Regions from separate parts of the Homo sapiens genome. Here regions 1 and 3 are each linked to region 2. Evidence: fine-mapped expression QTL. A gene starts in region 2. Each other region holds a variant in brackets. All regions are shown on one strand. Distances are from middle to middle. Region 1 holds the start of MIR5587 (microRNA 5587). Region 2 holds the start of NME4 (NME/NM23 nucleoside diphosphate kinase 4). Region 3 has its middle 4.7 kb from the start of AXIN1.

Region 1 (8,172 bases), 140 kb before region 2:
GAAGACTCCGATGGGAGGGCCCCAGGAAAGAGGAGCAAGAAGTGGTGGGAAGGAGGGAGGGCAGCACCAGCAGCCACCCCCAGGGACAGCGCCCAGCCAGGGCTGACTGCATCTCGGCCGTGGGTGCTGGCTCCGGCCAGACCTCGGCAGGGGGGTTATCATGTCCAGGGCCACTGAGGACAGCAGGGACAGGGCCTGCTGCGGCCAGCCAGAGGCTCTTGGGAGGAACGCTCACCTGCCACTCCCAGGTCCGGCCCACCTCAGGGCCTGGGCACACGTGAATCACCCAGTGCAGTGGCCCCGAGGACGCAGGTCAGGTCAGTCCGTGGTTCCCATCCTGGCTCCCTGTCTGAATAACCGGGGGGGGGGGGGGGCGTGCAGGGGCACTGTCACCAAGGAGTGTGCCCAGGCCAGGCCGAGGGACAGCAGGGTGAGGCCCCCGCAGAGCATGCCGAACTCTGACCCCTGACCCCAGGGACATGCCCTGGGCCGCTGCTGCTCCTGTAGGGCCTGCCGCCGGCCAAGCATCTGTGCTGCTCCCGTGAGCTGCATGTGCCCCCCGGGCCTCTGCTGTGGGCCAGGCTGTTTCAGGTGCTCGCGAATGGGAACCAGCAGGAGCCGTGACCACAGGGCTGACTCTCAGGGCGGCGCCTCAAGAGTGGCCGTGACTCATGACTGCCACAGAGCCAGGCTGCAGCCACGCCCGCCTCTGGGCTCCCTGGAGGGGCAGGGTGCGGAGGGCCCCGGGCTGTGTGGATCCATGCCTGACCCCCACAAGTCCAACTGTGCAGCTCCCCGCCCTCCCTGGGAGCCGATGCCCTAGTTTTAAACGGGGCGGTGGCCTAGATCCAGCCTCAGAGAATTGCAGAGGTGAGGCCGCCACTGCCCTGTGGGGACAAGTGGTTAATGAGCAGGGCCAACTGGCCGGTCCCTGTCCTGTATGCCACACACACACCCCGTGAGGGCAGCAAGGAGCATCCAGCCAGGGGACGTGCACGAGAAGGGCCAGGATGATCACACTGCCCGGGGCTCAGCACAGGGCTGAGTCCCGGAGGTGACCATTGCCGCCCCGCTCCATCTGCGGCCACTGAGGTCTGCTGGGGGTCTCTGGTGCTGGCCTTGACAGCCCACCCGTGGCAGGACAGGGTCTCGAGGTGCCTCTCGGTAGGTGGTGGGCTCAGTGGGGGTGACCCGTGGGGACGGAACGCATGCTCCTGAGGCTCCAGTGGATGCAGGCAAAGGCACCTCCCGGGGTCAGCGTCCCTACCTGGGGAGCTGGGAGCCCACATGGGAGCAGGGCTGGCACAGCGACCCCCAGCCTTGCGCGGGCGGCACCCACAGCTGTGTCCACTCCGCATACACTCCTCACTGTCTCGCTAACTAATCATGTACACGGCTGTACCCCCGAGCCCTCCCCTGCCCCGCAGGTGACACAGGCGTGTCCCACTCACACAGCACCTGCTCCTGGGCCCTACATCTCCGTCAATCTTTCACAGAGCCATCTTGCCACCATGGGAACCACAGCGACCCCAACAAGGATGCCCCGGTGTCACCCCTGCCCGAGCTGGGGGTGTGGGGGGCAGCAGATGGAAAGCGGGGGCCCCTGTGTCCAGGCAGCTGGTGGCCTGGCCTTGCCCCACGGCAACCCCACTGCGCCCTAAAACTGCACCCACCAGACCAGAGGCTGCTGGTCCAGGCAGGAAACAAGAGCCAGCCACTACCGGGACGAAGCTCAGTCGGTGCCCACAACCTGAAGACAGGCAACTCTGCCTTTGTCCCCACTGACGCTAAGGCCCCTGTGGAGGAGATGACCCCAAGGACAGGAAGCTCCTGCATGAGTCGGGTGGGAGGGCTGAGGACAGGGCTTCCCATCGTCCCTACAAGAAACAAGGCCAGGGCCCCGCCCTGGGGGAGGACGTGGACTCCGACCGCCCGCCCCAAATGACAACTGGCAGGACAGCATTCTCCAGAAACAGGTGCAGGCCGCTCCCCAGGGACCAGGCACCCTCCTGGCTGAGGATAGCGGTGGGGGCCGTGCACAGGCTCCTCACCAGCCCCAGCCCCAGCGCTGCCGTGGGGATGGGGAGCTCCATCTGGGGGCCGGGGCCACAGCACAGGGGAGGTCCCCAAAGGGACAAACACCCCTGTCGGGACCCCGGGCCGCCCTCACCGTCGCCTCCCACGACAGGACCACGGCCCAAACGGCTGGGAGAACGAGGCTCTTCAGGGCAGGCAGGGCTGCCGGCCTCCAGGGGTTCTGTGAATCAAGGGCTCCGAGAGGCCCCCCAGCCGTGGGCACTCCAACCCTGCTGCTCCACAAACAGTTCTGCAGCGCAAGCAAACCCATAAACGAGCCGCAGGGCTTGGGAACAAACTCACCTGAAGCTGCAGCAAGCTCCCAGGCCCTCTCTGTGCCGCGTCTGGGCTGCTGCCTAGAAAGGGAGGCATTTAATCAGGCACCTCAGCTTCCACCAGGAGGACTCTGACCCTGGAACACAGAGCCCCGCCTCCAGCCCTCTCTGCAGGAGCCAGAGTCCCGGGAAATCAGCCCCGGGAGACCCTTCGCCTTAGAAGCTGTCCGAGCTTCTGTCCTTGGGTGTCTGTCCGAGCGCCAAAGGCAGCCCGGGGAGCAGCAGGGGCTCAGCAGGCTCCTCACTACCCTGGTTTAAGGCCCTTGACCTGTCCAGTGCGGTCAACCTCCGGCCAGCCAGGACCGCAGACAGGGCCATTCAAGATCCTGTCCGGACCTCCCACGGCCCGACCCTGCTACAAGGAGCAGGCCGTGGGCAAGAGTCCATGAGCGGGGCTGCAGAGCAGCACCAGCCAGGGAGGGCGGCCGAGCTTCCCAGGCACTGCCAGGGAAAGGTGCCCAGCTTGGGCAGGCACAGGCACACAGCCAGGTGGCCACCTAGACTCCCCCGGACCCCAGCCCGAGTGCCACCCGGCCACTACAGCTGTCAGCAGGGCGGCCACTGCTTCGAGCCAGGCGGCTTTGCTTCTCTAAGGTCATGCTCTCCATGGCGGACCCACTGCGGTGGGCAGGATGCTCACGCTTCCCGCCCTGTCCTTCCTGGGCCCTGTGTAGGGCCCACCATGGACTCCTCACTCAGCCATCACCCTCTTTTTTGTTGGTTTTAAATTTTTTATTTTATTTTTTGAGATAGAGCCTCGCTCTGTCACCCAGGCTGGGGTGCAGTGGTGCAATCTCAGCTCACTGCAGCCTCCGCCTCCCAGGTTCAAGCTATTCTCCTGCCTCAGCCTCCCAAGTAGCTCGGATTACAGGCGCCCGCCACCGTGCCCAGCTAATTTTTGTATTTTTAGTAAAGACGAGGTTTCACCATGTTGGTCAGGCTGGTCTCGAACTCCAGACCTCAGGTGATCCACCCGCCTCGGCCTCCCCCAGTGCTGGGATTCCAGGCATGAGCCACCATGCCCGGCCCCTCACCCTCTTTTGTGATCAGCATGAGGATGGTGTGCAGGTGTGTCCAGTGGCACAGGCATCACCTGTTTTTTTTTTTTTTTTCTCTGACAGAGTCTCGCTCTGTTGCCCAGGCTGGAGTGCAGTGGTGTGATCTCGGCTCACTGCAAGCTCCACCTCCTGGGTTCACGCCATTCTCCTGCCTCAGCCTCCCGAGTAGCTGGGACTACAGGCGCCTGCCACCAGGCCCGGCTAATTTTTTTGTATTTTTAGCAGAGATGGAGTTTCACCGTGTTAGCCAGGATGGTCTCAATCTCCTGACCTCAGGTGATCCACCCGCCTTGACCTCCCAAAGTGCTGGGATTACAGGCGTGAGCCACAGCGGCTGGCTTTTTTTTTTTTTTTGAGACAGGGTATCACTCTGTCACCTAGGCTGGAGTGCAGTGGTGCCATCTCGACTCACTGCAACCTCTGCCTCCCGGGTTCAAGCAATTCTAGTGTCTCAGCCTCCCAAACATCTGGGATTACAGGCACACACCACCACGCCCAGCTAATTTTTGTATTTTTAGTAGAGATGGGGGTTTCGTCACGTTGGCCATGCTGGTCTCTACCTCCTGACCTCATGTGATTCACCCACCTTGGCCTTCCAAAGTGCTAGGATTACACGCATGAGCCACTGAGCCCAACCGAATTCTACTTTTTTTTCTTTTTTTTTTTTTTGAGACGGAGTATAGCTCTGTCGCCTAGGCTGGAGTGCAGTGGTGCCATCCCGGCTAACTGCAACCTCCGCCTCCCAGGTTCAAGCAATTCTACAGTCTCAGCCTCCTGAGTATCTGGGATTACAGGCACACACCACCACACCCAGCTAATTTTTTTATTTTTAGTAGAGATGGGGTTTCGCCATTTTGGTCAGGCTGGTCTCGAACTCCTGACCTCAGGCAACCCACCTGCCTCGGCCTCTGAAAGGGCTGGGATTACAGGTGTCAGCCACCGCACCCAGCCCCGACTTCTATTTTTAACAGGAAAAAAGGACCAGACAAGCACTCGTGGTTTTTGGCACTTCTCTACTTCTCTGCTTGCCATGTGGTGGCAGAAGCAGCCCTGGTCTGGGCAGCCCGGTGACCTCACTGGTGGCCAAGCAGAAGCCTCTGGGACACAGGGGGCACCTGTCACCCCAGAGAAGGGGACGGGGGCCTTGGGAGCCGTGTGGCCCTGGGCACCTGTCATCCCAGAGAAGGAGACGGAGGCCTTGGGAGCCGTGTGGCCCTGGGGGCACCTGTCACCCCAGAGAGGGAGACGGAGGCCTTGGGAGCCGTGTGGCCCTGGGGGCACCTGTCACCCCAGAGAAGGAGACGGGGGCCTTGGGAGCCGTGTGGCCCTAACCCAGAGGAGGCCTCGTGGCACCTCTTTCCCCATCAGCTCCAGCCTCTCTGCAGCCACCTTTTCAGGAGGGGCAGGAACTCCAGAAAGCTCCAAAACTTATTGCCTTTCTCATTACAGGGGACA[G/A]GGAGGTGGGGGGTAGGGAGTGGGGATCAGGCAGGGGCAGAAGGTGTAAGAGGTTCAACCTGCCTGGGGGACTTCACTTACAAAGGGCAGAGGCTGGGTGTGGTGGCGCCCACCTGTAGTCCCAGTATTTGGGAGGCTGAGGCAGGAAGATCACTTGAGCCCAGGAGTTTGAGGCTGCAGCGAGCTATGATTGCAACTGCACTCCAGCGTGGGCAACAGAGCACGACCCTGGCTCAAAAAAATAAAACTTAAAAAATGTTAAAATAAAGGGCAACTTTTTGAAGAGAAGTGAGGGGAAGGCCATGAGGAGGAACTCCCTCATTAGCGGAGCAAGCTCCTTCCACAGAGGAGCAGACGCTGCAGTCACTGTGACATTTAAAAAGCAGCGATGGCCCTGCGTCCTCCTGACATCCCGTCTAGGACCGCCAGGGAGGCGGGGATGGCAACCCTTGAAGCTTCCCTTTGACCTCAGGGAATCTGACAAATCGTTGTATCTGGAGGCCAGGATGGCGAGGCTGATGCCCATGACCCGACGGGACTCATGGGTCCACCCTGGTGCCCTGGATGAGTTCTGGGGAGGGCGGCCACACTGCTGGCTTCCCATGCAGCACTCAGGCAGGCCCCTCAGAGTGTGCAAAGCAACAGCCTGACGCAGCTCATCTTGGGGGGCCCACGGGGTCCCTGCCCTGGGCTAGGATGCCCCCATCCTCCCACAGACCCCATTCCGTGCACCCTGTGGGCCCAGCAGCAGCCCCTGTCCTAGTGGTACAATGTGGCTGTCCACAGACTCCACGCCCAGACACCTCCCTGGGCCACGCACCGGGAGGTCTCCACCCAGCTGTGTGTGACCCACATAGTGACAGGGTGTGGCTGAACGGGTCTAGGTCCAGCCCCAACCCACAGCCTCCCTGCAGCGAGACACACATGCAAAGATCACAGGCCAGCAAGCCTGTTCTCTCAGACTCAGAAACAGGCCGAGCTCAGGTGTGGCCGTGTCCACGCCACAGGGGCTGCTGTGCTACTTTCCTGGAGCACGCAGGAGTCCCCCTGGGCTGCCAGAACCCAGGTATTCAGAACTGCCTGTGGTGAGGGCCAACCCCAGGTGCTCACTGACCGCCTGCTCTGCGCACGGCTGCATAGCGCTAGACACTAGGCCTACCAAGAAACAGAAACGGACCCTGCCCTCGGCGCCACATCCAGCAGGGAGACAGGGCGGTCCCAAGTGTAAGTGCTGCAGGCAGATCCCACAGTGGGGAGCCAGGGACCAGCTACAGGGTCACATGAGAACCGCACAGACCTCAGCGTTCTCTCCAGCGTGGGGCATGAGAGGCCAGTGGCTCCACACAGCTGAGGCACAGCCTGGTGGTGAGAAAACCCACATCCACACCGAGTGGGTACGAGGGATGCGGAAGGGCTTTAGGCAGAGAACAAGTCCCACTGGGCTTCTGGGCACTCCTGCTGTGCCAGGGGTCAGAGGGCAGGACCAGAGGGACAGAGCAGGAAAACAGGAGAGCAAAGCGCACGAGGCAGCCCCCGGGTTGGGGGCCTCCTTCTTCTGTGTCTTATGAGGAAACCACCCAAGCCCACCCTCCGTGTCTCCTGTCATTTCAGCCTCACGGTCCAGGGCCGAGTGGCCACCCAGGACAGACACAGACCTGACAAGTCACCAGCCTTCCTGGGTTTCTGTCACTGTTTTTCAAAGACCCCAAGCTGTTTTGTTTAATGATGTCGTCCTCCTTCTCAGCACCTGTCCACGCCTGTTGCCATGAGTAGAGGCATCACACCGCGGGCCAGAGGGCTGGACCAGGGGCAACTCGGCCACCAACGGCCGAGTTCTTCACTGAGCGGCTCAGGCCCATGAACAACACCTGTGGTTCCGGAGGATTTTCCGGGCAGCAGAATCCTTCCCTCCAATTGCCTCGTGTGAACTGGTGGAACCAGCAGGAGGGAGAGACCAGGCGCTCAGCCTCCCTCGGCCCCTCCCCTGCCATGAACAGCTGTCTCCAGCTTCGGTTCCTCACCTGTGGCACTGGGGTTACCGGAGTGCTGCCCAAGGCCAGGGCAAGAAGCAAGTGAGGGGTGCCCGGAGAGAGAGCCAGCAGGGCTTGAGGCTGTCACACAGATGCAGCATTACAGGGGACCAGCCACTTCCTGCTCTCAGAGACCACGGTCTGTGGAGGCCCAGACAAGAGGCCCTGCGCAGTTATGCAGTTACTGAGCCTCGGGCTCTCCTGGGGACTCAGAGGTCACTGGCTCCTCTGCCAATCAAGGAGCTCTGGAGAGCCTCAGACACAGACAGAAGCAGGAAAAAGAGGGGTGCTCCTCCCGCAAGCAGAAGGACCTCGGAGGAGGCAAGGCACACCCAACCCAAGGCCAGGCCAAGCTGGTTTCCTGCAGGACCTGCCTCCCCCAGACAGGCCAGAAAAACAATTTCTCTTGCCCCACTTCACAGTTGAGAAGTCACTCAGAACCGGAAGGGAGAATCACCCCTATATCCTTGCCCAGCCCCAGACTCTGGAAACGCGGAGGCAATTACGGGGCACTCCCACACTGAACTGTGACTCACGTTTCCGCACCCCTCAGACCTGGGCAGAGGAAGAGATCCGGGTTTCCCGAAGGAGAAGCACACAACTCTTCAGCACCCAACGGAGTCCCAGTCTTCCCCACTGGCCCCACACACCCAGGCCTGGCCTCAGGTTCTGGGCCTCACCATTGCTTTCCGGGTCTTGTTACCTGCAGTCCGGTAACAAACTCCAGAGCAGTAAGGGGGCCCCGAGAGCTCGCCCGGCCAGGGCCAGCTGACCACACAAGAGTTCCCCCGGTCAGGACTAGAGGGGCCCCTTCTGCAGCCAGCGGGAGGACAGCAGATTTGCAACTTCCCAGCTGGTGCCGCAGCAGCCCCAGAGGAACACGGAAGAGAACACTGGCATGGCTGGCACAGACGGGGCTCCCGCCAGCCCCTCCACGCCAGGTGGCCGCCCCCAGGCCGTTCCCCAAGTGAGGGGAGTGATGCCCGCACCAAGCACAACATCCCTAAGGCGGCCAGGACCGCACGATGGGCCCGGATATAAGGGCACTCAAGGGCAGGCAGGGCCGAGGCCGCCTCCGGTGTGCGCGGCCCCCGGGGCTGGCCTCAAGTGACCCACATGGCCCAGGTCCCTGCCGACTTCCCGCCTTCCTCTGGGTTCCTCTGCGAAGCATCGCCCAGCCCTGGCCCCCACCAGCCTGGAGGCGCCAGCGGGCGGCGG
Region 2 (8,144 bases):
GTCTCTGGACCCCTGCCTGGCTCATACATCCAACAACGTTATGGAACTGGGTGTGCAAAACTTCCTCTTTACTGTTCAACTCCTTACAACTTGCATAAAGGCGTCATTTCTACCTCAGAGCTGGGGGAAGTCATAATTAGTGTACCACCCATGTGCTGGGCACAGTGAATTTTAATGCCTCCCCTTTAGAGGAGAGGTTATGATAATGTGAAGACCCCCCCCCACCACAAAGGTTGTCCGGCACTTTGGTGCAAAAAGGATTGGTCCAATCTTGTGCTGGCTTGGGGTACAGAAAGGCACTGAAGTTGGTGGCTCAAACTCCTCTGGGCTGGGGTGGGGCAGAGGTGAACAGGGAAGTAAGTGGTTTGGGACAGGCAGGTTTGGATGTGGGCTTGGGTTCTTGCTGACGGAGGTAGTTGGTCCTGCGTGGGGGATGGGGTGGTAAGGGCAGCTTGAGCCTCAGGCTGGGTGGATGCTGCTGTGCTGGCCCCCGTCTGCCCAGCTCACCAGCTCACTGCTCTGGAACCACAGCTGGATCTCCCGCTGGGCCCCCTCCACGGAGTCGCTGGCGTGGATGACATTCCTGTGCCAGGACAGGAGCAATGTGAGGCTCAGGCTTCATGTGCACCCTGAGGAATCCCAGGGACCATCTGCTGCTCCCGTTGCCCTCTGTCTAGGGGAGCAAGCCTGTGACTGCAGACAGGGAAGGAGTAACAGTGGAGCTGGGAAACCGGGTTCCAGCCTGGCCTCGGCCTCTTACAGCCTCGTGGACCCGCCCAGGCCCCAGCTTTTGGGAGCCTCATTTCCCCCCAAGTTGCCCCGTGCCAACCCCTTGGGGTGTCAGGTAACAGGCAACGATGGCACGGTACACACAACACAAAGGGAACACCTCATTGCCCTGTGTGCCCTGGGAGAACACGGCTCTCACCAGTGTGAGCTGTCATGTCCGACCTGGCTTCATCCTAGCACAGCAAGACAGCCAGGTCTCGTGGATCTGCCACCACCCCAAGTGATGGCCCTCCTTGCCCCCAGCAGCAGCCTGGTGTATCAGGACCCCCGTACCTGCTGATGTGGACGCTGAAGTCACCCCTTATGGTTCCTGGGGCAGCCTCAGCCGAGTCGGTGTGTCCAATCATGGCCCTCGAGGCGCGGACGACATTGTACCCTTCCCAGACCTGCAGCGAGAGATAATGGTTGGGGAGAAGTGGGGAACACCAAGGGCCCCTGGGCTCAATCCAGGGCCCCTCCCTTTGCTGGGGGGAAAGACACACCCACACGCCCTTTACCCACAGGCCCTTCCACCACCCCTGCCCTGCCGTACCATGGCCACCACAGGCCCAGAGCTCATGTAGCGGATGAGGGCAGGGTAGAAGGGCTTCCTCCGCAGGTCCTGGTAGTGCTCGGCAAGGACGCTCTCTGGTGCCTGGGTGGCATTGAGGTAAGGAGGAGCCGCAGACAGTAAACGTGGGCACTAGCACAGCAGCTGTGATGCCCTGACCTCAGGCACCTTGCAGATAACACCAGCATGGGCAGCACCCCCACCGCAGAATAGATCCCTCCTGCCCCTTCAACTGCCAAAGCCAGGCCCTGCCCCGGCGCTGGCTGGGATGTGAAAGGCCGAGAAGGATCCCCCAACCCCATCCCCACAGGGACACCCACAAGCCCAGAGTCCCACTACCTGCAGCATCTTCATCCCCACCAGCGTGAAGCCCCGCCTCTCAAAGCGCTGGATCACGTCCCCAACGAGCCGCCGTTGCACGCCATCGGGCTTCACCGCCACCAGGGTCCGCTCCCGGGTCCAGGAGGGCCCTCCTTCAAAAGGCAAGAGGTCAGAGGCACTGCCACCTCACCCTTTCACGTCCCCACGACCCGGGTTTCCCAGCCAGAGCCCAGGGGTCACCAGGCTTCAGGGTGTCTGCCTCTATGCAGGGCACTCTGGAAGGGACAGGGATGGTGCCCACAGCCACAAACACCCCCATGATAGTCCCTGTCAGGGACACCCAAGGCAATGTGTCCCCAGGGCTTCTAGCCTCTCCCAGGGGCCATGGCTCCTCCCAGCAGAGGCAGAGGCTGCCTGAGATCGCCCCGAGGTTCAGGGAGGCACTGCCCAGCTCAGGGACCACCACCGCAAGGTCCATAGAGGCAGAGCCAGCTCAGGGACCACCTCAAGGTCCAGGGAGGGACAGCCCAGCTCAGCGACCACCCTGAGGTCCACAGAGGCACAGCCCAGCTCAGTGGCCTCAGGGAAGTCTGGAGATCCTGCAAAACTCCAGCCTCACTTTTGACTCCATCCCTTCTGGATGACGACAGACATGGTCTGAAGCCCCGACTTTCCACATGAGGAAGAACCCAGAGCCCACCCTGTGTCTGAGGTGAATGAGTGGCAGGGAACCAGGGAGAAACACACTTTCCCCACCAGGTGAGCCCTGGAAACACGGACAAAAAGGGGCCTGAAGATTGAAGAGGGAAGGTAGCAGGGTTCTGTCCGAGCCAGGAGACGGGGCCTGTGCTGCTGTGGAGTTTCAAGGCCTGTCGCTTCCAGACCCAGGGTCAGCGCTGAGCTCCGCCCCAGCCGTCCTCCTCTGGAGGGGACGCTGCCAGGGAAACAGAAGACGTCCTCACCTTCCTATAGTCCCAGGCTGCTCCAGAGCCAAGCTACCCTCCGGCATCGGGTCCCTGGTTTCCAGAGGAGCCCAGACCCTGTATGTCCCACAGAATCTGGACAGAGCCAAAGGGGCTCCGCCAGGCCAGGAGGAAAAGTTAACCCCAGCAGGCGGCTGAAGCCCACGGGAGGAAGACCCCCTGGTTGGTTTGTTCCCCCAAAACCCAGTTTGCAGGGCGCCTTGTGTAGCCTGGGGCTCTGCTGCGGCTGGTGCGGGCATTGCAGGCGGCGGCTCACTTTTCAGAGCCGATGGAGGGAGCCCTGGGACATGGATCGTCCTGTGAGGTGGCAGCTGGGGGGGCCGGGCAGCGGCGGGGCCGGGGACTTGGGGCCTGACGTCCCAGTCAGATTCTGGCCTAACTTGGCCTTCAGCGAACGCCCCAGCGGAGCGGCTCCCCCCACCCCCACCCCCCGACTCCCTCACCCCCCCACACCCCCACCCCCACCCCCCGACTCCCTCACCCCCCCACACCCCCACCCCCACCCCGGCCGGGAGACCCCCTCCCCGCCCAGTGCTGCAGCCGGCCTCTGCCTTCCTTGCGCTCCCGGGCCCTCGGTCGCCCCGGACCCGCCCAGGCTGCCAACTCGCCGGGCGCCTGCAGCCTGGGGCCTGGGGAGGCGAGAAGGAGCCGCAGAGCCGGACGGGCACTGGAGGGGCGTGCGGGTGCGAGCCGGCGCCTTCCCCAACTCGGACGGACCCCGCAGCCCGCGCCCCGAGGCCTCTGGGGGAGTCGGACCCCAGCCCGCACGTGCGCGCACAAAGGCCGAGCGGCGCGCGCCCCTTCCTCCCCTCCGCGTCCCCGCCGGGGCGCGCGGCCCCACTCACCCGAGCCGTGGCGCACTAGCAGGCTCGGGCCCGGGGCCCGCGGGCCGCAGCGCAGCCCCCGCAGCGCGGAGCGCCAGAAGAGGCCGCCCATGACGCCCGGCCCGCGGGCCGCTGTGAGCGCGAGGAGCGGGCGCGGAGGGCGGTGCCAGCCCGAGACCCGCCCCCGCCCGCCCGGGAGCCCCCCGCCGCCCCGGAGCCCCCCGCCGCCCCGGACCCCCGTGGCCCGGCGCTCACGGGGGAAATGTTCAACGCCAATTTCTGTTAAAAATCAGAAGAAAAAACAAAATAATAATGAATCCTTCTCGAATTGCATTCGTCTTTACACCGACGCAACCGTTAACTATCGTTTTAACGCTTTCCCACGGAGGAAGGCCCACTCGGGAGGCTGAGGCAGGAGGATCGCGTGAGCCCAGGAGATTGAGGCTGCAGTGAGCTGTGACTGCACCGCTGCACTCCAGCCTGAGCAATAGAGCAAGACTCTGTCTCAAAAATAAATTCACGGACCAAAAGGAGGTCTAGAAGCCCTGGTCTGAGCCCCCTCCAATGGAGGGTGAAATTCCCACGTGAGCCCCAGGGCGGGAGAAGGAGGCGCTCCGGAGACGCTGACTCTGCGGCCAGGACGAGTAGGCGGGACTACAGACCCGCGCCACCACAACCAGCTAATATTTTAATTTTTTGTAGAGATGGGGCCTCCCTATGTTGCCCATGCTGGTCTCAAACTCCTGGGATCAAGAAATCCTCCTGCCTTGGCTTCCCAAGGTGCTGGGATTACAGATGTGAGCCTGGTCTGTGAATTTGAATGGGGAAAAATCCGACCTTTATTCTCAAATGGCCTCTGATGTGACTGCATTCCTCTAATTCATTCAATTGCGGATATAAGGAAGAAGCCACATTCATAGTTGCAGGGCCTGTGACTTTGTCACCAACAGAATTCACAGGTACGGTAATATTTGGGTAGATAGCACAGCATGCTACTATTTGAAATGGTTAGGTCTCCCACTGCTAGAACTTACTTAATGAGTCTTGAAAAAGCCTGTTCTTTTTGCTGCTATTGTGAATGGAATTGTTTTCTTATTTGAATTGTCCATTGCAAGTGTATAACAGACAATTGAGGTTTGTTTGTTTTCAGACAGAGTGTCGCTCTTGTTGCCCAGGCTGGAGTGCAATAATGGCATATCTCTGCTCACTGCAGCCTCCGCCTCCCAGGTTCAAGCAGTTATCCTGCCTCAGGCTCCCGAGTAGATGGAATTACAGGAGCTTGCCACCACACCTGGCTGGTGTTTTTTTTTATTTTTAGTAGAGACGGGGTTTCGCCATGTTGGCCAGGCTGGTCTCAAACTCGTGGCCTCAGGTGATCCACCCGCCTTGGCCTCCCAAAGGGCTGGGATTACAGGCGTGAGCCACCACGCCTGGCCAACAATTGAGCTTTGTGTATTGATCTTGTATCCTGCAAGCCTTCCAAATGCATTTATTAGTTCTAATAGTTTTTAATTAATTCCTTGGGAATTTCTTTGTATAAGATTGTGTCATATGGAGCGGGGCACACTGGCTCATGTCTGTAATCCCAGCACTTTGGGAGCCCGAGGCGAGCGGATCACGAGGTCAGGAGTTCAAGACCAGCCTGGTCAACGTGGTGAAACCCCGTCTCTACTAAAAATACAAAAATTAGCTGGACATGGTGGTGCATGCCTGTAATCCCAGCTACTCAGGAGGCTGAGGCAGGAGAATGGCTTGAACCCAGGAGGTGGAGCTCACAATGAGCCGAGAGCATGCCACTGCACTCCAGCCTGGGCAACAGAGCAAGACTCTGTCTCAAAAAAAAAAAAAAAAAGAAAAGAAAAAACATCATGTCATATGGGAATAGAGACGGTTTCAGTTCTTTCTTTCCAATCTGAATGCCTTTTATTTTATTTTCTTGTCTAGTTGCTCTGACTAGAATTTGCAGTACTATGGTATAAAGAAGTGACTTTCTTTCTTTTTAGAGGCTGGACTCTTGCTCAGGCCTATTATCCCAACAATTTGGGAAGCTGAGGCAGGAGGATCACATAAGCCCAGGAGTTTGAGACTAGCCAGGGCAATATAGCAAGACCCTGTCTCTTGAAAAAAAATAGTAAATAAACAAAAAATATATGAGTGAAGTGTATAGTATGTCAATTGTATCCCAATAAAGCTATTGCAAAAAGGAAAAAGCAGATATTACTATAGCGTACTCTGTTTTTTTTTTGAGACGAAGTCTCACTCTGTCACCCAGGTTGGAGTGCAGTGGCGCGATCTCGGCTCACTGCAAGCTCCGCCTCCCGGGTTCACGCCATCCTCCTGCCTCAGCCTCCAGCTGGGACTATAGGCGCCTGCCACCACGCCTGGCTAATTTTTTTTTTTTTTTGTATTTTTAGTAGAGACGGGGTTTCACCATGTTAGCCAGGATGGTCTCGATCTCCTGACCTTGTGATCTGCCCGCCTCAGCCTCCCAAAGTGCTGGGATTACAGGCATGAGCCACCGCGCCCGGCCACTATATCGTACATTTTTTAATGTTTTATTTTTGTTTTTTTAGCAACAGGGTCTCGTTCTGTCACCTGGGCTGGAGTGCAGTGGTGCAGTCATAGCTCAACTGCAGCCTTCACCTCCCAGCCTCAAGCGATCCTCCTGCCTCAGCCTCCCCAGTAACTAGGAAAACAGGCCTGAGCCACCGCACTTGGCCTAAAATATTTTGTTTTTGTTTTTGTTTTTGTTTTTGAGATGGAGTCTCACTCTGTTGCCAGGCTGGAGTGCAGTGGTGTAATCCTGGCTCACTGCAACCTCCGCCTCCCAATTCAAGCGATTCTCCTGCCTCAGCCTCCTGAGTAGCTGAGATTACAGGCACGCGCCACCACACCCGGCTAATTTTTGTTTTTTAGTAGAGATGGGGTTTCACCATGTTGGCCAGGATGGTCTCGATCTCTTGACCTTGTGATCAACCCGCCTTGGCCTCCCAAAGTGATGGGATTACGGGTGTGAGCCACCACGCCCCGCTGCCTAAAATATTTTGTTTGTTTGTTGGTGAGACATCGTCTTACTCTGTTGCCCAGGCTGGAGTGCAAGGGCATGATCTCAGCTCACTGCAACCCCCACCTCCTGGGTTCAAGCAATTCTCCTGCCTCAGCCTCCCGAGTAGCTGGGATTACAGGTGCTCGCCACCACACCCAGCTAATTTTTTGTATTCTTAGTATAGACAGGGTTTCGCCATGTTGGCCAGTCTGGTCTCGAACTCCTGACCTCAGGCGATACACCCACCGCAGCTTCCTAAAGTGCTGGGATTACAGGTGTGAGCCACTGCGCCCGGCCTGGCCTACAATATTTTGATAATTTATTTCAGTATAGTTTTTTATATTTTTATTTCCTTGTATTTTATTTTGCACATTAAAAACATGCTGAGACTGGGCGCAGTGGCTCGCGCCTGTCATCCCAGCACTTTAGGAAGCTGCGGTGGGTGTATCGCCTGAGGTCAGGAGTTCGAGACCAGACTGGCCGACATGGCGAAACCCTGTCTATACTAAAAATACAAAAAATTAGCTGGGTGTGGTGGCATGCACCTGTAATCCCAGCTACTCGGGAGGCTGAGGCAGGAGAATCCCTTGAACCCGGGAGGCAGAGGTTGCAGTGAGCTGAGATCGTGCCCTTGCACTCCAGCCTGGGTGACAGAACAAGACTCCATCTTAAAAAAAGAAAAAAAAAATTATGCTGGGCCGGACGAGGTGGCTCATGCCTGTCATCGCAGCACTTTGGGAGGCTGAGGCGGGTGGATCACCTGAGGTTGGGAGTTTGAGACCAGCCTGACCAACATGGAGAAACCCTGTCTCTACTAAAAATATAAAATTAGCCGGGCCTGGTGGCAGGTGCCTGTAATCCGAGCTACTTGGGAGGCTGAGGCAGGAGAATTGCTTGACCCTGGGAGGCGGAGGTTGCTGTGAGCTGAGATTGTGTTATGGCACTGCAGGCTGGTAGACAGAGCAAGACTCTGTCTCAATAAATAAATAAATAAATAACTCTCTTGGCCAGGCGTGATGGGATGGTTCACACCTGTACTCTTAGCACTGTGGGAGGCAGAGGTTGGAGGATCACTTGAGGCCAGGAGTTTGAGACCAGCCTGGGAAACATAGTGAAACCTGTCTCTACAAAAAAATAAAAAATTAGCGGGGCGTGTTGGTGTGCGCCTGTATTTCCAGCTACCGGGAAGGCTGAGGTGGGAAGATTGCTTGAGCCCAAGAGGTCCAGGCTGGATTGAGCTGTGATCGCACCACTGCACTCAGCCTGGGCAACAGAATGAGACCCTGTCTCAAAACAAAACAAAAAAGAACTCTCGTAACTCAACAAGAAAAGCAAAACCCAGTTCATTTCCTTGTGTAATGCCTACCCCTTGAGTGTGGACCATGCCTGGTGACTGACTTCTGACACAGCAAAAGAGACGGAGTGTCACTTTCACAATCTGGTCACCAAAGACTGCAGCTGCTGCTGCTCCGCCACCTCCTGGGAGAAGCAGCTCCCCTGTTGTGAGCAGCCCTGTGCGGAGGCCCCCATGACAAGGAACTGATGTTTCTGGCCAAAAGCAACATAGGTGGGCTTAGAAGTGAATCTGCAGGAGGCTGAGGCAGGAGGATTGCTGGAGCCCAGGAGGTTGA
Region 3 (8,172 bases), 39 kb after region 2:
TGGCTGAAAGTGCTCGGACGGACGGCCAAGCCCATCATGGCGGACAGCGGGACGGTGGGGCGTGAGCAGGCACACGGAGCCAGGCAGGTGAGGTAAGCCGGGCAGGCGGCCGGGCGGACAGGTGGACGCGCCTCCTCTGCCCATTGTTCTCGCGGCTGCGGCCCTGCCCTCGGCCCACCCCACCCTCGAGTGCAAGCCCACACGCAGCGCCCGCACCCTCACCCTCAGACCCTCTCCGGGTGTCCCGAGGAAGGGTCAGGGGAAGAGACAAAGGGAGCAGGGTGAGGCAGGATGAATCCTGACGGACCTCGGACCCCAAAACCGCCCCGGTGGGTCTTCCACGTCAGGTTTCACATGGAGGCGGCATCAAAGACCCCCGACTGATCCAGGCCGGCGTCCCGGCCGCCACTCCAAGGTTAGGAGACAAGCCATGTCAAGTCGGTGCCGTTTAAGCAGCATTTTTTCGAGGAGAAAAAAAAAAAAGAAACAGAAGCGATATAAAGAAAAAAAATGTCCACCTATGACACGGGAAGCGGCCAGCCCGATGGATCAGAAGCGCCAAATCCCATTACTCGGGACTTCAGGGACAGGCCCTGCAAGGGCAGCTGCGATTAAGAGCTTGTCAATGGACTCTCCTTTAGAGATCAAAGCGGGGCGTGCTTGTGTGTGTGTGCGTGTGCACGTGTGTGCGCGTGCACGCGTGTACGTGCAGGAGCGGACACTGTGGGGTGACAGCACAGAGGTCGTGCACCGCAGCACCACGGGGCCCATACGTCGCCGACGCGGCCACCTCCACACTGCTTGCGTCCTTGCTGCCGTGTGCGACGTGTGTGGACGCGGCTGGGGGCCTGGGCCGGGTACCTGGTCCCAACACCTGCACCCTTTCAAAGGCCTCCACCTCCTGCTAGAGGCCGTGCCTTCCCCAGGTTCTGCCCAGAGGAGCCCGCAGGGGCCGAGCTGGGTGTGAGGACAGCCGTGGCTGCGTCTCCTCCCCCCGACCACGTCCTGCTGCCCACAGAGGCCTTGAGCTCTCAGTTGGCCTGGCAGGCGCGCCCTGGGGGTTCAAAGCTCCCGTTGACACGATTGTTAGGTTATTAGGTAAACTCTGAGACGTAAATCTTTTAATCCACTGTGGCTAATCCGGTTCACTTTTGTTTGCCACGACAGACGCCGCGGCGACAAAGGGGCCTGGGGCCCAGCACACACAGTCACACGCTCAGAACTTGGCCGCGGCCTCAGGGTTCCTAGGCAGTGGAGAGAGACATCTTGGGACAGCCAAGCAGAGGGAGGCGGCGGAGGGCACAGGTGGGCGGGGGCGCAGGTGGGCCGGGGCAAAGGCAGCTGCCCGCTGGGGGCCGCACTTCCTCACCTCCCATTTAATGTCCCCTTGCCAGCTCGAGGGGGAACCGCTGGGCACTGGGGTGTGCAGGTATCGGGGCCGCTGGGGATAGTGGGCAGAAGGACAGATGAGCACCAACGGGGGGGCGGCAGCGCCCGGAGAGGCGTGTGGGATGGAGGCCGTCAGGGCAGGGAAGGGCGTTCAGGTGAGGGAACAGCAGGGACAAGGACTGTGGTCGGTGTGGCAGGGGCAGGAGTCCCCCCAACAAGGACAGGAAGCGGCCTGAGGCTGCCCAGGGAGGTGGGACGTCACCTGCTACTTCCCGAAGTCAGCGCGAGGCCCCTCGGGGCATGGCCCCTGCACTTGGATGCCACCTCTTTTTGGGAAAACAGCACTGAGGTTGGGGGAGGCCAGCAGGCCCTGCCCTGTGCTCACAATGTGCCTGGGACACCAGACCTGGTCCATGGCCAGCCGTGGGCTCCATCCCGCCACCCGGCCTGTCAGAGAGGGTCACACACGGACCTCTGGGGCTGTGAGGCCAGGTCAGGACGATCACTTTGCCCAGGGGGACACTGGCACAAGGAGGTGCCTGCTTTGCCTAGGGCTACAGGCTGGCCCAAGACAAGGATGGGCACTCAGGTCTCCTGGGAGGCAGGTGCCAGGCCAGGCCCAACAGTCCCCTGATGTCAGCAGCTCCCGAGTTGGGAAGTGGTGGCCGCCCTCCCCTCCTACTTCCCCAGCCCCTGCGGCCGGACCCTCCAGGCAGGCCTACTTGACCACATCCTGGTATCCACCTGGCCCCAGTCCCAGCCCCTGGACACCCTGGGGTCAGAACTCTTCAGAAAGGCAGTGCAGGAGGACTCCCCTCAGGACACTGGGAGGTGTGGACAGTACCCTGGGATGGAGGGGACCGCCTCTGGGCCGCCTGGCTGGCCAGGCCCCCGCCCTGTTGCCAGTGCTTTCCTGTTGGCCTTGGCGTCCTGACCCTTGACCCCTGGAGGCCAGCGGGGATGTGGGGACTGTCAGGTCTGCTGGACGGGGCTGGGCGCAGGCGACGTGGGTGACGGCAGGTCTGGGGCCTGCCCCAGGGGACAAGTATGGACCCGGAGCCAGCGGGGACCAAGCACTGTGGCCACAGCAGCCGTTTCATTTCTTTTTCTTTTTTTTTTTTTTTTTTGAGATGGAGTCTCACTCTGTTGCCCAGGCTGGAGTGCCTTGGCACAATCTTGGCTCACTGCAACCTCTGTCTCCTGGGTTCAAGTGATTCTCCTGCCCCAACCTCCCCAGTAGCCGAGATTACAGGGGCCTGCCACCATACCTGGCTAATTTTTTGCATTTTTAGTAGAGATGGGGTTTCACCACGTTGGCCAGGCTGGTCTCGAGCTCCTGACCTGAGGTGATACGCCCACCTTGGCCTCCCAAAGTGCTAAAATTACAGGCGTGAACCACTGTGCCTGGCCTAATTTTTGTATTTTTAGTAGAGACGGGGTTTCACCATGTTGGCCAGGCTGGTCTCGAACTCTTGACCTCAGGTGATCCACCCGCCTCAGCCTCCCAAAGTGCTGGGATTACAGGTGTGAGCCACCGAGCCTGGCCACACACAGCACCCGTTTCTTTGGGCCCCTGCCCCGCAGCGGCTGAGTGGTTCACCCTCCACCTCTCTGTGGGTGGGTCCTCCTGACCACAGGTGCCCAGCCAATGGTGGGTCCCGGGGGCAGAGGCCGTCAGGTCATCCATGGCCATGGTGACAGTCACACTGACCTGATATTGGAGCCAGGGCATATGAGGTAGGGCCCTGCTCCCCTTCCCCCAGGCCTCTGCCTTTTGTGGGGACCAGGATCACTCCTGGGGCATCTGCCCTGCGGAGGCAGCTTTGGCTACAGAGCTATGTGGACCACTCCAAATAGGAAG[C/T]GTGTTGCAACATAGTTGGATGACACACCTGCCCGACAGGTGTGAGGGGGAGAGGAGGAAGGACCTATCTAGGGGCACATCAGTGCTAAGGGGGCTGCCAGATGTGGAGGCCGGGGAGGCCCCAGCCCAAAGTGACACCAACAGCTGGGATGGCCCAGGAAGCCCCTGGCAGGGTGTGTCTCTCAGGAAGGTGGCAGAACCTCCATGCCAGGCCCCAGGCCACCGTGGGGCGATGTGGCTGCCATCAGCCGTGACCATCACCCTGCTGGACACACACTGCCCAGTGGTCAGTTCCACCCCTCAGGGCCTCAGCCGTGATGCCCGTCTCCTTCAGTGGGTTAACTTACACAGACCGTTCCACGGGACCATAACTGTTACATCCCTGTAGACATTCCTGAACATGCAAAGAAGAAAATGGAACTTCATGCTTCTGCTTCCACTAATAACACGTGGACTGTTTTGAGTCTTCTTGCCCTTTTTTTTTTTTTGAGATAGAGTCTCGCTCTGTCGCCCAGGCTGGAGTGCTGTGGCGCGATCTCAGCTCACTGCAACGTCCGCCTCCCGGGTTCAAGCGATTCTCCTGCCTCAGTGTCCCAAGTAGCTGGGATTACGGGCATGCGCCACCACGCCTGGCTAATTTTGTATTTTTAGTAGAGATGGGGTTTCTCCATGTTGGTCAGGCTGGTCTCGAACTCCCAGCCTCAGGCGATCTGCCTGCCTTGACCTCCCAAAGTGCTGGGATTACAGGCGTGAGCCACCACGCCTGGCCCAGTGTCAGGTCTTTCTCTCACCCAGACTGGAGTGGAGTGGCACCATCTCAGCTCACTGCAGCCTTGACCACTCGGGCTCAAGCCATCCTCTTGTCTCCGTGTACCTGGGACCACAGGTGCACGCCACCATGCCTGGCTAATTAAAAACAATGCTTCTATAGGGAAAGGGTCTTGCATTGTTGCCCAGGCTAATCTTAAACCGCTGACTTCAAGTGATCCTCCCGCCTCAGCCTCCCAAAGTGCTGGGATTACAGGTGTGAGCCACTGCGCCCCGCCCACATTTTCTATTTTCAGGAAAAGTGGTGCCCTGTGTGCGTGGCCTGGCGGCATGTCTCTGGGGTGTTGTAGCTCCTTGTTCTCTGTCGGGCTTGGGATGGGGGCACAGGCAGCATCTGGCCTCTCCTGTGGGCTCAGAACTGATGGAAAAAGAAGGCTCAGGGATGAGAGCTGGGGCTCGCCTTACAGCCTGGAAGGCGGTGGAGGGTGGTGGGGGCTCTGCCTGCGATGGAAAGTGCAGTCCTCCCTCGCCTGAACGGGATGGTCCAAGGCCTCCCTCCCCCTCGAGGGGCCTCCCTCCCCTCCAGCGGCCTCCCCTGCCTGCCCACTCCCACCTCTCACACCTATGGACTGAGCGGAGGGGGCAGAGAAGGGGCAGACTGGAAGAGGCTGAACCCAAGGCTTCCCTCAGCCTCCAGAACCCTGGATCAGAACCGTCCGTCCTCTTCCCCCGCTCCCCTTACACTGATGCAGGGTCGGTGGCTGCACAGTGTCCATCTCTGCAGCTGGCTGTCTCCATCACACATCGTACAGCGGCAAACACTCCCCAGCTAATGTCCTTGGGGTGTCTTCCAGGGTTTCCTTTGGGTCATTTTTTATAAGTGGTCTTCCTCAGTTAAATGGATAAACACACTTAAGGCATCAAAACTCACTTTATTATTTTCTTAATTTTTATTTCTTGGAGACACGGTCTTACTCTGTTGCCCAGGCTGACGTGTAGTGGCTCAATCACAGCTCACTAAAGCCTCCAACCGCTGGGTTCAAGTGATCCACCTGCCTCGCGCTCCCGAGTAGCTGAGACCATAGGTGCGCAACACCACGCCCAGCTAGTTTTTAAAAATTGTTTAGTAGAGACAAGGTCTCACTATGTTGCCCAGACTGGTCTTGAACTCCTAAGCTTAAGTGATCCTCTGGCCTTGGCCTCCCGAACTGCTAGGACTACGGGTGTGAGCCACCGTGCCTGGCCTTTTCTTTATTTTTATTTTTTTGAGACAGAGTCTCGCTCTGTCACCCAGGCTGGAGTGCAATGGGGCGATCTCAGCTCACTGCAACCTCTGCCTCCCAGGTTCAAGCAATTATCCTGCCTCAGCCTCCTGAGTAGCTGGGACTACAGGTGTGCGCCACCACGCCTGGCTAATTTTTCTATTTTTAGTAGAGATGGGGTTTCACCATGTTGGTCAGGCTGGTCTCGAACTCCTTACTTCGTGATCCACCTGCATCGGCCTCCCAAAGTGCTGGGATTACAGGCGTGAGCCACCGCTCCGGGCCAGCCACTTTATTTTCAAGGTATTCCTTTTAGGCTGGGCATGGTGGCTTGGGCCCGTAATCCCAGCACTTCGGGAGGCCAACGCAGGTGGATCCCTTGAGCTCAGGAGTTAGAGACCGGCCTGGGCAACATGATGAAACCCTGTCTCTAGCAAAAATACAAACAATTAGTGGGGTGTGGTGGCACACGCCTGTAATCCCAGTTACTCGGGAGGCTGAGGTGGGAAGATCACTTGAGCATGGTAGGTGGAGGCTGCAGTGAGCCAAAATCACGCCACTGGGCTCCAGCCTGGGCAACAGAATGAAACTCCGTCTCCAAAAACCAACAAACAAAAAAACATACCTTTTATGTCTACATTGAAGAAAATAATTCCATGTCTGCTCTTAAGTGTCTCATTTGGTGCCTAGAAACAAAACCTGATTAAATGTCATCTACGGTCAATCAAATAAAAGCCTTCGTGGCAAACTCACGCTCGAAGCAAAGGGCGTTTGCCTCTTCAAGGAGCTCTGTGAGGAAGGGAGGTGGCTGAACCTCACCCTGCACACCACAGGCCCCCGCGCGCCTCCCTGCCCCTCCTCAGGGCCTTCCTCTACCTCTCTTCTGCCTGGCCTGCCTCTGGTCTCCTCCTACCCCCACTAGGCTCAGAGAATCTCCCCTCCACACCCACACCACAACCTACTTTAGAAGGGCTGCTGCATTTCCTCCAGGCTTTCTGACCCCCTTCCTGTCCCTGCAGGGCAGGGGCCCCGAGGAGCTGGAGGCCCAAGGGCCTTGTTCTGGTCCCAGGGCCTGGGGACACCTGCCACCGAGGGCCAAGAGGAGGATGGACGTGGACACAGCCCCGAGAGCCTGGCCCGGACACAGCAGCAGCTCTGCAGAACCAAGGCAAGCATTGGGGACCTTGTTGGGAGTCGGGGGGCAGCCCAGGGGCCAGTGTCTGAGGTCCTGCTGTCTGTCTGGCCACCCAGGACTCCCTCATCCCTGGAAACTGTGCTTTACCATGGAGGCCACCCACTCTGTCTCCTCTAAGGTTCTGAGGCTGAATGGGCTAGGGGGCTTGCGGGGAGGCCCCAGTGTCCAGCACTGTGGGACCTGGCAGGGTGCCTGCGGCCAGGACCCAGCGGGGCCAGGTGTTGGTCTAACAGTGCAGCTTCGTTCATATCCCCAGCCCCTGCCCACCTGCTCTGAGCACAGTGATGGCCCTGGGAGGTGGGCCTGGGCCCTTGGCAGGCTGGGGACAGCCTAGTGGCCCTTGTCCCATGCTACCCCCTTTCCCACACAGCGATGCTGGCATCAGACACCATGCTGAGTGCTGGCAGGGGCGAGGGCTGGGAGGCTTCCACACATGGTTCCCCATGCAGTCCCACCTGTGGGCATCTGGTTGGGGGTAGGCTGGAAGCTCGGGGAGCCTGGAGCTGGGACTTCTGTGCTTGCCTGGGAGCTCTGAAGGGTGAGGCTGGGCATCCAGGGTGACACAGCCCAGGGAAAGACATGGGGGTGACGTGAGAGGTGCCTGGAGGGAGCTGGCAGGTATGGACATGATGGACACGGAAGCACGGAGGCGGGCAAGTGGCCAGACGCATCTAGGGGAAGGTGTGGGGGAGGCGCCCTTAGGAAGGGCCCTGAAGGGCTGTGGGCAGCAGGGAGCCCTGGGAGGCCTAAAGCAGAGGGCAGATAGATGAGGGCTGTTGTCTCAGGTGTGGGGCGGACGAGGTGGGGAGCCCTCACCCAACAGGAGGCGAGCTGGTCCTGTGTGGCCTGAACTGCAGCTGTCTCCTCTGTGAAACGGGGGTATAGCTGACCCCAGGGGGCTGCCTGGAGCATCCCGGGAGGTGCCAGGCCCAATAGTGCTCTGGGAAGGACAGGGCCCTGGGCTGTTGTGGGAGGCGGCAGATCCTGGTACTCACATCCTCCTCCTTGGGGAGGGCCTGATGGTTGGCTGAGGCCTGGGTGGAGAGCAGAGGGTTGGTTCTGACAGGGTTGGGCTGGCCAGAGCTGGTGCTGGGGCTGCTGCTGGGGGCCCGTGCCTCTCTGCCGTGGGGTGCCTGGGGCTGTGACCTCATGCTCTGTGGCCTGCAGGGCAAGTGACACGGATCTGGGCAGCCAGGGTGGCAGGATCGGACTGGACCCCTTGGCAGGGCCGCTGTGGAGACAGCCCAGGGGAAGGGGTGCAGGGGTCTGGACACTCCAATGGCCTTGCTCTCGGGCTGGCCTGGGCAGCGGAGGGAAGGAGAACCCTTCTCTGATACTAGATGGTGCCTGGGAGAAATCAAGGCAGAGGGTCCTAGCCGGTGGGCTCTTTGGAGGTTGTGGCTCCTGTCCGGGTGAGAGCCACCATATATTGGGGCCTAACGTGTTCCCTGGCGCTGTGAGTCCAGGCTGCCTTGGGACTCAGGAGGGTGGAGCCCACCCCACCTTCCAAGGGCCCTGGCCATCCCTGCCTGCCGACCACCCCACTCCTGGGAGCCTGCTTCCCTCACGGCGGCGGGCAGGCCGTGGCGGTCCCCACGAGGGCCTCCTCTCCAGGGCCGGCTGGGCAGGGAGCCCCGAGGCCTGCAGCCCCCTGACTGCCCTCCGATGTACTGGCGGCAGAAAAGGGCTGCGCCCCA

The links. PIP is the estimated chance that this variant, and not a neighbour inherited with it, causes the effect.
Region 1: its variant is fine-mapped to the expression of NME4 in whole blood (TOPMed, PIP above 0.99).
Region 3: its variant is fine-mapped to the expression of NME4 in whole blood (TOPMed, PIP 0.95).

What each region holds. Positions count from the first base shown.
Region 1 is chr16:528,206-536,377 of GRCh38, reverse strand. It overlaps CAPN15 (calpain 15), which reads right to left. Exons shown (of 14, transcript NM_005632.3): 2 at 2,380-2,432; 3 at 236-349. MIR5587 (microRNA 5587) reads right to left here and starts at 1,062; the gene lies at 1,010-1,062. The variant G/A (reference allele first, on the strand shown) is at 4,925.
Region 2 is chr16:392,658-400,801 of GRCh38, reverse strand. It overlaps NME4 (NME/NM23 nucleoside diphosphate kinase 4), which reads right to left and starts at 3,603. Exons shown (of 5, transcript NM_005009.3): 1 at 3,489-3,603; 2 at 1,679-1,812; 3 at 1,322-1,423; 4 at 1,063-1,175; 5 at 48-583. The coding sequence starts at 3,579. The coding sequence ends at 460. LOC100134368 (a long non-coding RNA gene) reads right to left here. Exons shown (of 3, transcript NR_024453.2): 3 at 7,842-8,144. RefSeq lists enhancers at 1-94, 1,108-1,693, 3,963-4,012 and silencers at 2,973-3,042, 3,183-3,672.
Region 3 is chr16:353,334-361,505 of GRCh38, reverse strand. No RefSeq gene overlaps it. Among named protein-coding and RNA genes, the nearest start is that of AXIN1, 4.7 kb to the right of the region's middle. RefSeq lists an enhancer at 1-632 and a silencer at 8,115-8,172. The variant C/T (reference allele first, on the strand shown) is at 3,251.